Regions from separate parts of the Homo sapiens genome. Here region 1 is linked to region 2. A link means that fine-mapping ties the variant in region 2 to the expression of a gene that starts in the linked region. Tissue or cell type: lung. Region 2 holds a variant in brackets; the other region holds the start of a gene. All regions are shown on one strand. Distances are from middle to middle.

Region 1 (5,364 bases), 24 kb after region 2:
CCCCATTGCAGATGAGACCCAGGGCCTAAGTTAAACAACTTGCCCAAAGTCCGGTACGCTTAGGAGGAGGCACACCTGACTTTTGACTCTACGTCTGCCTACTCCCTGACCTATGCTCTTTCTAGAAAGTGGACACTTGCCCAGATAACACCACTTCTATCCACTTCTATCCCTCGGGGAGGCCCTACCCCATTTCAGCTGGGCTCAGAGCTGGGCAAATTCAGACCTAGAGTGGATTTCAACTCTGCCACCTGCCAAAGGGTAGACCCCAACATGCCATGTGTTTCTCCAGTGGGCATCCTTGGGTTCCCTGGCTCCATGCTTAGGAGGCTGGGCCCTCCACCTGACTTCTTCAAAGCCCTCCCCAAGAGCCAGCTCCTGCAGAGCCAAGAGCCATGAGCCGATCCTCCAAAAACCAGACCCATAGGACAAGAGGCCAGGAGAGAGCGGCCAGCTCTCGGTGAACACAGGTACAGGGCCTTGGCAGGCTCAGCAGTCAGGACGTCCAGGTCTCATCTCCAGTCTGCCTCTTGCTAGTCACTTGACCTCCCGCAGCCTCAGTTTCCCCATCTGTAAGATGATGACGACACCCTCCAGCTCCTTAGTAAAGGAATGATAAAATGACAGTTCAGCGTCTGTATTTTAATACCTGCGTCATTATGTAATCATTTTGTGATGCAGCCACCTCTGGCACAGAAAAAGTCACCCTGTGCCTATTTAAGGATTAATCCCCTTAAGCATTCCTGGAAATGAGAACCCCTCTGTGCCAGGCTGCCCTTCCAGGCTCTTCTGTCCTTTCCTTGGCCTTTGGCTCTTGGAAGGCTGAATATTTCTCCCACCAGGACCTCAGACTATCTTTAGGGAACCCCGGCTGGTTCATTCCCACTGTAACCCCTGAGGCTCTTGGCCTCCTCCCGTCCTCCTCTTCCTCCTCCTTTTTTTCCCTCCTTCCCCTCCTCCTCAGTTTGGGCTTCCCCTGTCCAAGAAGCCTCAGGATGAGCTTTGGGAACGAGGTTTTACCTGTGTTTCCAACTCTGCTCTGAGCCCCTGAGCTCTGTAGTGGAGGGGAGGAAAGGGAGAAGGGAGGGAAAGTGGAAGCATCGAACAGTCAGGACACTGGGCTCTCATCGCAGCTCTGCCGCCAGCCAGCAGTCACCCTGGACACATCCTTGTGCCTGAGCGCTAATTTCCTCCCCTGTGAAATGGGAACAGCAGGCCCTGCCTACATCGTGGGGTGGTTTAAGGAATCAATGAGATGACAGCTGTGAATGTTCTTGGCGCAGTACAACATATGCCATGTGTTTCTCCAGTGTTTTCAAAGGCCGGTAGTGCCCGCCACCACCCAGTTCAGAACTCACCACAAAACATGAATTTCTCATCACTTCTCACCATGAGTCTTGTCTTTCCAAAGGAAGGGAGAAGGGAAAGCCAGCTGAGCACCTCTTACCTGTCTGTGCTGGATGGGGCCTTGCCACAAGGCTGTGCAGTTGGAAATAGCCTCACTTCATAGATGAGGAAACCGAGGCTCAAAGAGGTCAAATAGCCTGCCAGAACTGTGCAGCTGGAAGCCACAGGCCAAGGCTTTGCCTCTCTTTCCTCTGCTCCCCATCACTCTGCAGGGGTTATGGTGGGGGAACAAGAGAGGCTTGGAGCCCCTCATTCAGATGCACCAAAGGCACCCACTAAGAAGCTAAGTGTCTTACACATCAGTGGAAACCAGAGGGTAAACAGGATTCCATCCATGCCCAGGGCTTTCCGGGAACACACCTGTCCAAGCAGCAGCAGTTCCCAACAGAGCTCTGGTCCCGGAAAGCCGGACAGCCAGGGCTGGGCCCTCTGGGATTTGTTTAGTGATCTGACCGTGTGGGAGGCCTAGAGTAGGAGTGGGGGTGGGGGGAGCGTGCCGCCCAGCCTTATTGCATCACTCACCGCCCAGGCCCTGCCCTCACTCCCTCCTGACCAGGCCCTGTGCAGGTTCTCAGCCACCCTGCCCCGGGGGGTCCTTCAGACTGTACTCACTGACCAAGTGAGGGACTGACCCGAGGTTAGAGTGCTGTGTTGTATGTGACCTGAGAATATGTGTGCACAGACTGAGCCCCGGTGTCCTTGTGCAGTTGAGCGTGTACATGTCCTGCCCGTGTGTAGGCAACCTGTCCCTACATGCTAGGAGTGTGACTCCACGTCCTGCTAGAGGGGGAGGAGAGAAGGAGTTGTGCCCAGGGTCCCCTGATCACTTCTATGGGCTCATGTTTGTGCATCTTGTTAGGGGTGCTTGGGGGTAGGGAAGCCTGTGCCCTGGGTGCCCTTGATCACCTGTGTGTGTGCTCCATCAGGTGTGCGCGCCTGTGCATTGGGGGTGTACTGTGTCACAGCTTCCTAAAACAACCATGTGCGCATGCAGACGTTTGCGTGTGTGACCTACGGTGTGAGCGAGCGGATGCTTCCACCACGTGTCTCTGCACACGCATGTGTGCACTTGCACACCTGCGTGTGTCCCGAGAGAGCGAGCGGAGCCCAGCGTGGGCTGGCACGCGCGGGAACGTGTGGGTGCGCGTCCTGCGGGTCCCTGCCGGGTTGACTCCCAGCTTGTGCCGCGGGCGTGCATGAGCGGAAGGCGCCCGGCGGCCCTGCCTGGCCGCGAGTGTGCGCGCGCGGGGTCCCGGGCCGGCGTGCACGCCGGTGTGAGTGCGAGTGCGAGTGAGTGTGGCGCCGCGCGGCTCCCTCCGCTCCGCGCCGCCCGCGCAGCCCGCACACTCACCCTGCTTGGTTGCTGCCGGGTGACGCGGGCTGGGCCCGCCCCCTGCCTGCCGGCCTCTGGCACTCGCTCGCGCCGTCCGCAGCGGAGCGGGCAGCGGCCAAGTCAGGGCCGTCCGGGGGCGCGGCCGGCGATGCCCGCAGCCCCCGCCGCGCCCCGCCGGGCCTGCTGAGCCGCCCCCGGGCCGGGGTCGCGCCGGGCCGGGCCGCGCCCGGGGCGGGGCGGCGCTGCCTGCATGACCCTCCGGCGGCGCGGGGAGAAGGCGACCATCAGCATCCAGGAGCATATGGCCATCGACGTGTGCCCCGGCCCCATCCGTCCCATCAAGCAGATCTCCGACTACTTCCCCCGCTTCCCGCGGGGCCTGCCCCCGGACGCCGGGCCCCGAGCCGCTGCACCCCCGGACGCCCCCGCGCGCCCGGCTGTGGCCGGTGCCGGCCGCCGCAGCCCCTCCGACGGCGCCCGCGAGGACGACGAGGATGTGGACCAGCTCTTCGGAGCCTACGGCTCCAGCCCGGGCCCCAGCCCGGGTCCCAGCCCCGCGCGGCCGCCAGCCAAGCCGCCGGAGGACGAGCCGGACGCCGACGGCTACGAGTCGGACGACTGCAGTAAGTTTCCCACGCGCCGACTTCGCGCCCCCTCCCCTGGCTCGGGCTCGGCCCCCCCACGGCCTCGCGGCTTCCCTCCGCCGGTCCCCCTCGCGCGCTCGCGCTCTGCCTCGGTTCACAACCCCGCCGCGGGCTTGCGGGCCCCTGGCGCACTCGGTGCGCTCTCCGCGCCCTGCCCACCGGCCTCGAGCCCTCCCCCGACCCAGGCCGGACAGGAGGGAAGTTCGGGGGCACCCCCTGGGGGTGTCCCATTTCCGGGGCCGGGTTCCTCGGAGCCGGCGCCGCGCCCCCTCCCTGCCAGCCCGCCCTCCCGGAGCTCCGGCGCGGGCGGCTGCTTTTGTTCCCGGGAAGGGCGGAGCTGCGTCCCGGGGAGACACCAGTTGCTGCCGGCCGCGCGGTCGCTCCCCGCTCGCCAGCCGCTCCGGGAGGGCCTCGCGGCCGAGGGTCGGGGCTGGGGCGAGCTGGGGAGGGGCCCGAGGCTGGGAGCGGCCCGGCCTCCCGCGTGGTCCCGGCGGCCCGCAGAGCGCAGCTGCTTTGCTGGCGCGCGAGCAGAGGACCAGGAGGACCGCGGGGCCGCTTGTCCTTTGGAAAAACCTTGGCGTTTCCTCCTCCGGTGTCCATGGACCCCGCCGCAGCCCTCGCCAGGGCCGCGCACCTTCGCCCACCTGTTACGCCCGCGGCCCCCGGGCAGAGAGGGCCCCCCAGCCCGCTCCCCCTCCTCCCGGACTGAGCCCTGAGCCCCCGGGAGCAGGCAAGCGCCGGAGTCCCGGGACCGAGGCCCGGCCGGTGGGCGCTCCTGGCGCCTTTTCCCGTCCCCGAGGGTGCCTGTCCGGCCCGAGCCGGGACTGGCTGGGAAACCGAGGCCGGAAGAGGTCGCAGTCCAGTGAGGAGTCGGTTTGCGCGGGGTGGGGATGGCATGTGAGAACCCCCTCCTAGCTCAGCTGTGGCTCCAGACTTGTCACTGAGACCTGGAAAACCAGCGTCTCGTCAAACCCCAGCCCTTCCCGGGATGTGGCCCTTCTCCAGGGCTGGTGCTGCCCCTCCCCTGCGCAGCAGGGATGTCTGCGCCTGGCCTGGGCACTCACCAGGGCCTGTGGGCTGCGGGCCTGGAGTTTCCCAAGCATCAAATGTGCCACCAGAAGCTGAAGGTAGGGATTACCAGTGCCCCCGGGGCACAGACCCCCCATCGCCCCACCTGGGGAGGCCCATCAGCAGTGGCCGGTTAGAGCAGGGCCCCTGTAGGGGAAACTGCCTGCTTTGCACTTTCTAGAGGCCTGGACCACGGCCCTCGGGCCAGCGCCTGGCACATGAAGGCCCTGCCCTGGGGCGTGGGGGCTGGGGAGCAGTCTTGTCCCTCCACTTTCCTGCCAGCTTGGGGAGATTGGGTCGGAAGAGTTTTTTGCCCTCAGGGCTGTGCCCTAGATCCACCCCCCCTCCCCTCTGCCCCTGGCACCCTGTGCGAAGCTCACCCTGGACTTGGTGATCCCCTGGGTGGGCCCTGAGTGGGACCCAAGTAACTGCTTTGGCTGCCCTGAATCCAAAGCCTCCCCCAGAAGAACGGATGGGAAAGTTGTTCCCATTTCTGGCATCTCTGCTGCTGCACCAAGGAAGTAAGAGGGGAGGGCAGAGCTTCAGGCCACCCTCCTGGTGCCACAGAGGGCCCTCTGCATGGCGAATGGCCAAGAGGCTTTTTCTTTTTCTTTTTTTTGCTGTCTCTGAACCCACAAAGCAAGGAGGGGACCAGGAAGCTAGAAACTCAGGCCAGCCAGCCCCATCTCCAATCCATCAGCTCAGCAGCCCTTCAGGGAGCATGTCCTGGCAGCAGGGCTGGGCCCCTGGCCTGAGATACATGCGGTGCAGGGGCCAGACTCACATGAGGTCAGCAGTGCAGGGCAGAGCTGGATGCAGCTTTGCCAGCTTGAACTGTGGGCTGGCCACACCCGTATTATCAGGACATGCCAAAGAAATGCTGAAGACGGGCTCAGAGGAGCTAAGGAGGAC
Region 2 (5,364 bases):
CCCCCACCAGAACCCCATGACTGGGCCAGACCCAGTCCCTGCAGCCCCAGGGTGGATTCCAAATGCATTTCCTAGAAGGCATTCATTAAGACGACGTCATCGTGGAAGTGTCAGCTTCAGAGCTGAGGTGGGCTGCAGATCCCTCACGGGAGCCTGCGGCTGCCTTGGAGTCAAGGGTTCTTTGTGGGCTGGTCTGGGAACCAAGAAATCCTTTCTTTATGAAACTGCTTTCTTAGTCCCAAGCAACCAACTTACAAGTTAGCTTTCAGAACTGAGCCTTTCCTGGTAGAAGGTGGAAGGTGTTCTGTGACATCCGTAAAAATCAGGGCATACGGAAGGGACTGGATTTGTCCCAAATACCAGATAACCCAAGTGGTTCCTAGAAGAGGCCGCAAGTGGAGAGCTCATGAACTTTGGACCCTGGTTTCAAATCCCAGATCTGCTACTTAGTGCCTGAAAGTATGGGTGCTTCTCTGTGCCTCTGTTTCTCATCTGTGAAATGGGGATAACACTTCCGTCCCAGGATGACTGGAAATTTAAAACATGAGGGCCCCAGTACAGCTCCCACCACCGTGACCAGTATGTCAACAGCTACCAGCTGTTTCTCCCGTAGAATTCAGTGAGGCACGTGCCTCAGGAGTGGTCAAGATGCCATAAGAACGTGAGAAGGGTGGCAGCCTGGTACCCGGGGCACAGTAAACCTTCATGCTTCTCCCTTTGGGGCTTTGGAATAATGGTGCTTATCCACATTCATTCCTCTGTCGAGCATTAATCGGGCAGATGCTGGTGCAGGTGCAGTGTTCTAGGCCCTGGGTTTGGTAGTGGACAAAACGGACATGGCCCCGTCCTCCTGCTGCATCTGAACCACCCAAGGGACTTGTTAGAACACAGAACACACTAATCCTACCTCGGAGTTTCTGATTCAGAGGTCTGCCGTGGGGCTGACAATGCATATTTCAGTTCCCAGGTGATGCCGAGGTTCCCATTGGAACCAGCTCACCTGTGACTCCTGGGGCTGACATCCCTAAACCCGCACCAGCTGGGGCAAAAGATACACGGACACTGGCAGACGACCGAGGGGCAGGGGATGCGGATCAGGCTGGCAGAGAAAACGCAGCCCTCACAGCCCTGCTGCCGCGTCCCGCCCCCGACAGATGCACGGCTCCGCGCTGTTGCTCAGCCCTGGCGCACAGGCCCAGCGGGTTAGAGGATTTCCACCCCAAACAGCGGGGGCCGGCATCTTTCCCACATGAGAAAACGCCTGCTTTCTGCTGGTACCTGGAGGAAAGGAGCATCTTATCGCGAGACCATGGAGCGGGGTTGGAACGACATGCCTGGCTCAGGTCCCCGCTCACTCCACTGACCTTGTTCTCTTCGCCCAATCACGTTTCCCCACCACCTTCTACCTTCCTCGAGCTGCCGTAAGAAACACTCGCCCAATCATGTTTCCCCATCGAGGTGCCATAAGAAACACTCGCCCAATCACGTTTCCTCATCGAGCTTCCGTAGGAAATATTCGTCTAATCACGTTTCCCCATGGAGCTGCCGTAAGAAACACTCACCCAATCACGTTTCCCCATCGAGGTGCTGTAAGAAACACTCGCCCAATCACGTTTCCCCATGGAGCTGCCGTAAGAAACACTCACCCAATCACGTTTCCCCATCGAGCTGCCGTAAGAAACACTCGCCCAATCATGTTTCCCCATCAAGGTGCCGTAAGAAACACTCGCCCAATCACGTTTCCCCATTGAGGTGCCATAAGAAACACTCGCCCAATCACGTTTCCCCATCGAGCTGCCATAAGAAACACTCACCCAATCACGTTTCCCCATCGAGCTGCCGTAAGAAACACTCGCCCAATCATGTTTCCCCATCGAGGTGCCGTGAGAAACACTCGCCCAATCACGTTTCCTCATCGAGCTGCCGTAGGAAACATTCGTCCAATCACGTTTCCCCATCGAGGTGCCGTAAGAAACACTCACCCAATCACGTTTCCCCATCGAGGTGCCATAAGAAACACTCGCCCAATCACGTTTCCCCATCGAGCTGCCGTAGGAAACATTCGTCCAATAACGTTTCCCCGCCACCTTCTACCTTCCTCCAGCTGCCGTAAGAAACACTCACCCAATCACGTTTCCCCATCGAGCTGCCTGCCGTAAGAAACACTCGGG[T/C]TCTGTGGTGCCTTCAGGTGTTCACTTCTTCATGGAGCTTCCGTGTGACGTAACACATGCTAAATACATGCTCAGACTTTTCTCTGGTTAATCTGCCCCCCCCTTTTTTGTATTTTTTTTTTTAACAGGGGGCCCAGCCAATGAGCCTGAGGTGGCTGTAAGGAAAAAGCTCAGTTTCCTCCCCTATGATTGGTTCCCCAGCAGGAAGGAGGCTGAGGCTGGATGGGGAACTGGCCTGCCTGCAGCCTCCACCCCAGGCCACCCTGCCCTGCACTCCGCCCATGGGGGAGAGAAGCCTCCTACATAAGGTGACCAGCTGGAGGGTCCAGCTGTTGGAGGTACTAGGCAGAAGGGGCCCTCGCCAGGGGAGATGGACGGCACACAGACGCACACACACGTGTGCATACACTAGTATGTACAAACACAGAAAGGTTCACCTGTTTACAGAATACGTAGGAGGCCAGGTGCAATGGCTCATGCCTGTAATCCCAGGACTTTGGGAGGCCAAGGCAGGAGTATCACCTGAGCCCAGGAGTTCGAGACCAGCCTGGGCAATATGGAGAGATGCCATCTCCACAAAAATTAAAAAAAAAAAAAAATAGCCAGACGTGGTGGTGCATGCCTGTAGTACCAGCTACACAGGAGGCTGAGAAGGGAGGATCACTTGAGCCCAAGAGTTTGAGGCTGCACTGAGCTGTGACTGTGCCACTGCACTCCAGCCTGATTGACAGAGCAAGACCCTGTCTCAAATATATGTGGAGGACCAGTGCCTTTAAATTGCTCATCCAAGTGCCAGCAAATGCTCTTCTGCACAGGGGAGGGATGAGACCAAAGGAAAACCTGGCACTGGCATTGCCCGGAGTATGTGAGGAGAAGGACCTCGCCAGGCCATGTGTGAAGAGCATTGGCAGAGCCCCTGCCATGGCTAAGTCCTGGTGTCCCCTGCAAAGCAGGGCCTTGATGCTCCAGTTTCCTGTCCCTTTCCTTTCCTCTGCAAACGGTCAGGGCTCTGACCCGCAGCGCCCGGCCCCACCCCGGGGCTGTCTTGTGCAGAAAGCAAAGCAGAGTGTGCCTCTCCTCACCCCACAGTACCGAGGAGAGCAGGCAGGCAGGAGGAGGAGGAGGCAGGAGCTCAGAGATCCTTAGGAGCCCCCGACGAGGTGCCCCCAGTCTCCACCAAGACGGCCGAAGCTCTGAGCCTTTGATGCAGACCTCAGGATGTCTGCAGCTTCTTCAGTGCCAATTACCAGAAAATAATTCAGCGTGCTCACCCCCTGCCTCTCAGCGGCTGCTCTTTGGAGACATTTTAAGTCTGACTGTACCTGCTGAGCAGCTGACAAATGAAGCTTCTCCCTCCCTGCTCCCTCCTTCCCGACTGCCATCGCCTCCACCTTTGCCCAGGCTCTTTCATGGGGAAAAGGGAACCAAAAGCTGGGCCCTGTCATCCCTGCCCCCACAGCAGGGGCCTGCCCAGATCAGTCGCTGCACCTTCTTCCCAGGCTCTGCTTCCAGACGTGGCATGGCAAGGCTGGGTTCCCTAGAGCCCGGCTCCTGAAGGCAGAAGTCAAGGCTTATTCACCTTTGGGTCCCTAGTTAGCTGTCAAGAAATATTGCTGGATCAATGGATGCATGGATGCATGGGTAGATGGAGGGGTAGGGGATGGGTCAGTGGGTGGTGGAGGGGTGAGGATGGTTGGGGGATGGGTGGATGGCAGGTGAGTGAGGAGATGGATGGAGGTCTGGATGAGTGAGGGATGGGTGAGGAGATGGATGGGTGAGTGGGTGGAGGAGTGGGGGATGGGTAGGGCGATAGTTGAGTGGGGAATGGGTGGGGGAAGGATGGGTGGGGGAGGGGTTAACGGATGGCTGGGTGGGGGAAGGGTGAGTGGGGGCATAGGGGGTAGTTGGATGGATGATGATTGGGTGGGGGATGGTGGGGGTGGGTGGGTGGAGGACAGATGGGAGGATGGATGATGGACAGACTGATGGAGCATTGGACAGATGGATGGAGAGACAGGTGCATAGATATTCTGCATGGACCAATGTGCTGAAGGACATCTGAGAGGATGGACAGATGAACAGAGGATGGACCAGTGTCCTGATGGGAAGAAGGATGTGTGGATGGATGGAAACACTCCAGGCCCAGGGCCTGTGTGCTCTGCATCCCTAGGGAGGGGCCAGCAGATCAGGAGCCCCAACCTACACTTCCCAGAAGCTGTGGGTCCTCGGCCAGGAGCACTCAGTTCACAGCAGCCACAGGAATCCTGGGCAGAGCAGCTCTTGAGCCCTGGTCTCTGTGCCTCAGCCTGGTCTGCGTACCTCAGAGGGCCCTTGTGTGGAGCCCTGGTCTGTGTGCCTCAGAGGCCCTCGTGGGGAGCCCTGGTCTGTGTGCCCCAGCCCGCCTCAGTGACCCCCAACAAATTCCCCCCCTATCAAAATCACTATAGCTGTAGTCCCAGCTACTTGGGAGGCTGAGGCAGGAGGATTGCTTGAGCACAGAAGTTGGAGGCTGTAGTGAGCCATGATCTCGCCACTGCACTCAGCCTGGGTAACAAAACAAGACCCTATTCAAAAACAGTAAATAAATGAAAGAAAACCCACTGCCACATTCCTTATGCTAATAAGGCTAGCCAGCCCTTAATGTGTGTGCAGATGAGATCTTACTCAAACTCATTCACACAGAAGTACAGGCATGTGTCACCTAACAACCAGGATACGACAGGGATACTTCCAAGAGATGTGTTGTCAGGCAATTTCATCATTGTGCAGACATCATAGAGAGCACGGACGTAAATCTAAGTGGCAGAACCTACAGCACACCTAGGCTATGTGGGAGAGCCTGGGCTCCTGGGCTACAAACCTGTGCAGCATGTAGCAACTGCGACACCGTGGAATTATGTGTGTAGCTAATCATAGAAAGGGTACAGTAAAAATACGGTATAAAAGATGTTTTAAAATGACACAGGTGTATAGAGCACTTCCCGTGAATGGAGCTTGCGGGACTGGAGTCGCTGTGGGAGAGTCAGTGTGTGGTGAGTGTGAGGGCCCAGGGCATTACTGTCCACTCGTATGTGACTGGCAGTGTAATAGGTGTGTTCACACCAGCATCACCACAAACGAGTGATAACGTGTTGCACTGTGACATTACACGCCGCAACCTCACTAGGCAACGGGAATTTTCAGCTGCTTTGTA

The links.
Region 1: it holds the start of DOC2B, and the variant in region 2 is fine-mapped to the expression of DOC2B in lung (TOPMed, PIP above 0.99). The same link has a PIP of 0.9 or more in atrial appendage and esophagus mucosa.

The regions. Positions count from the first base shown.
Region 1 is chr17:179,106-184,469 of GRCh38, reverse strand. It overlaps DOC2B (double C2 domain beta), which reads left to right and starts at 2,820. Exons shown (of 9, transcript NM_003585.5): 1 at 2,820-3,363. The coding sequence starts at 2,991. LINC02091 (long intergenic non-protein coding RNA 2091) reads left to right here. Exons shown (of 2, transcript NR_104420.1): 2 at 12-646. RefSeq lists enhancers at 1,935-2,436, 3,898-4,464.
Region 2 is chr17:203,134-208,497 of GRCh38, reverse strand. No RefSeq gene overlaps it. Among named protein-coding and RNA genes, the nearest start is that of LINC02091, 19 kb to the right of the region's middle. The variant T/C (reference allele first, on the strand shown) is at 2,172.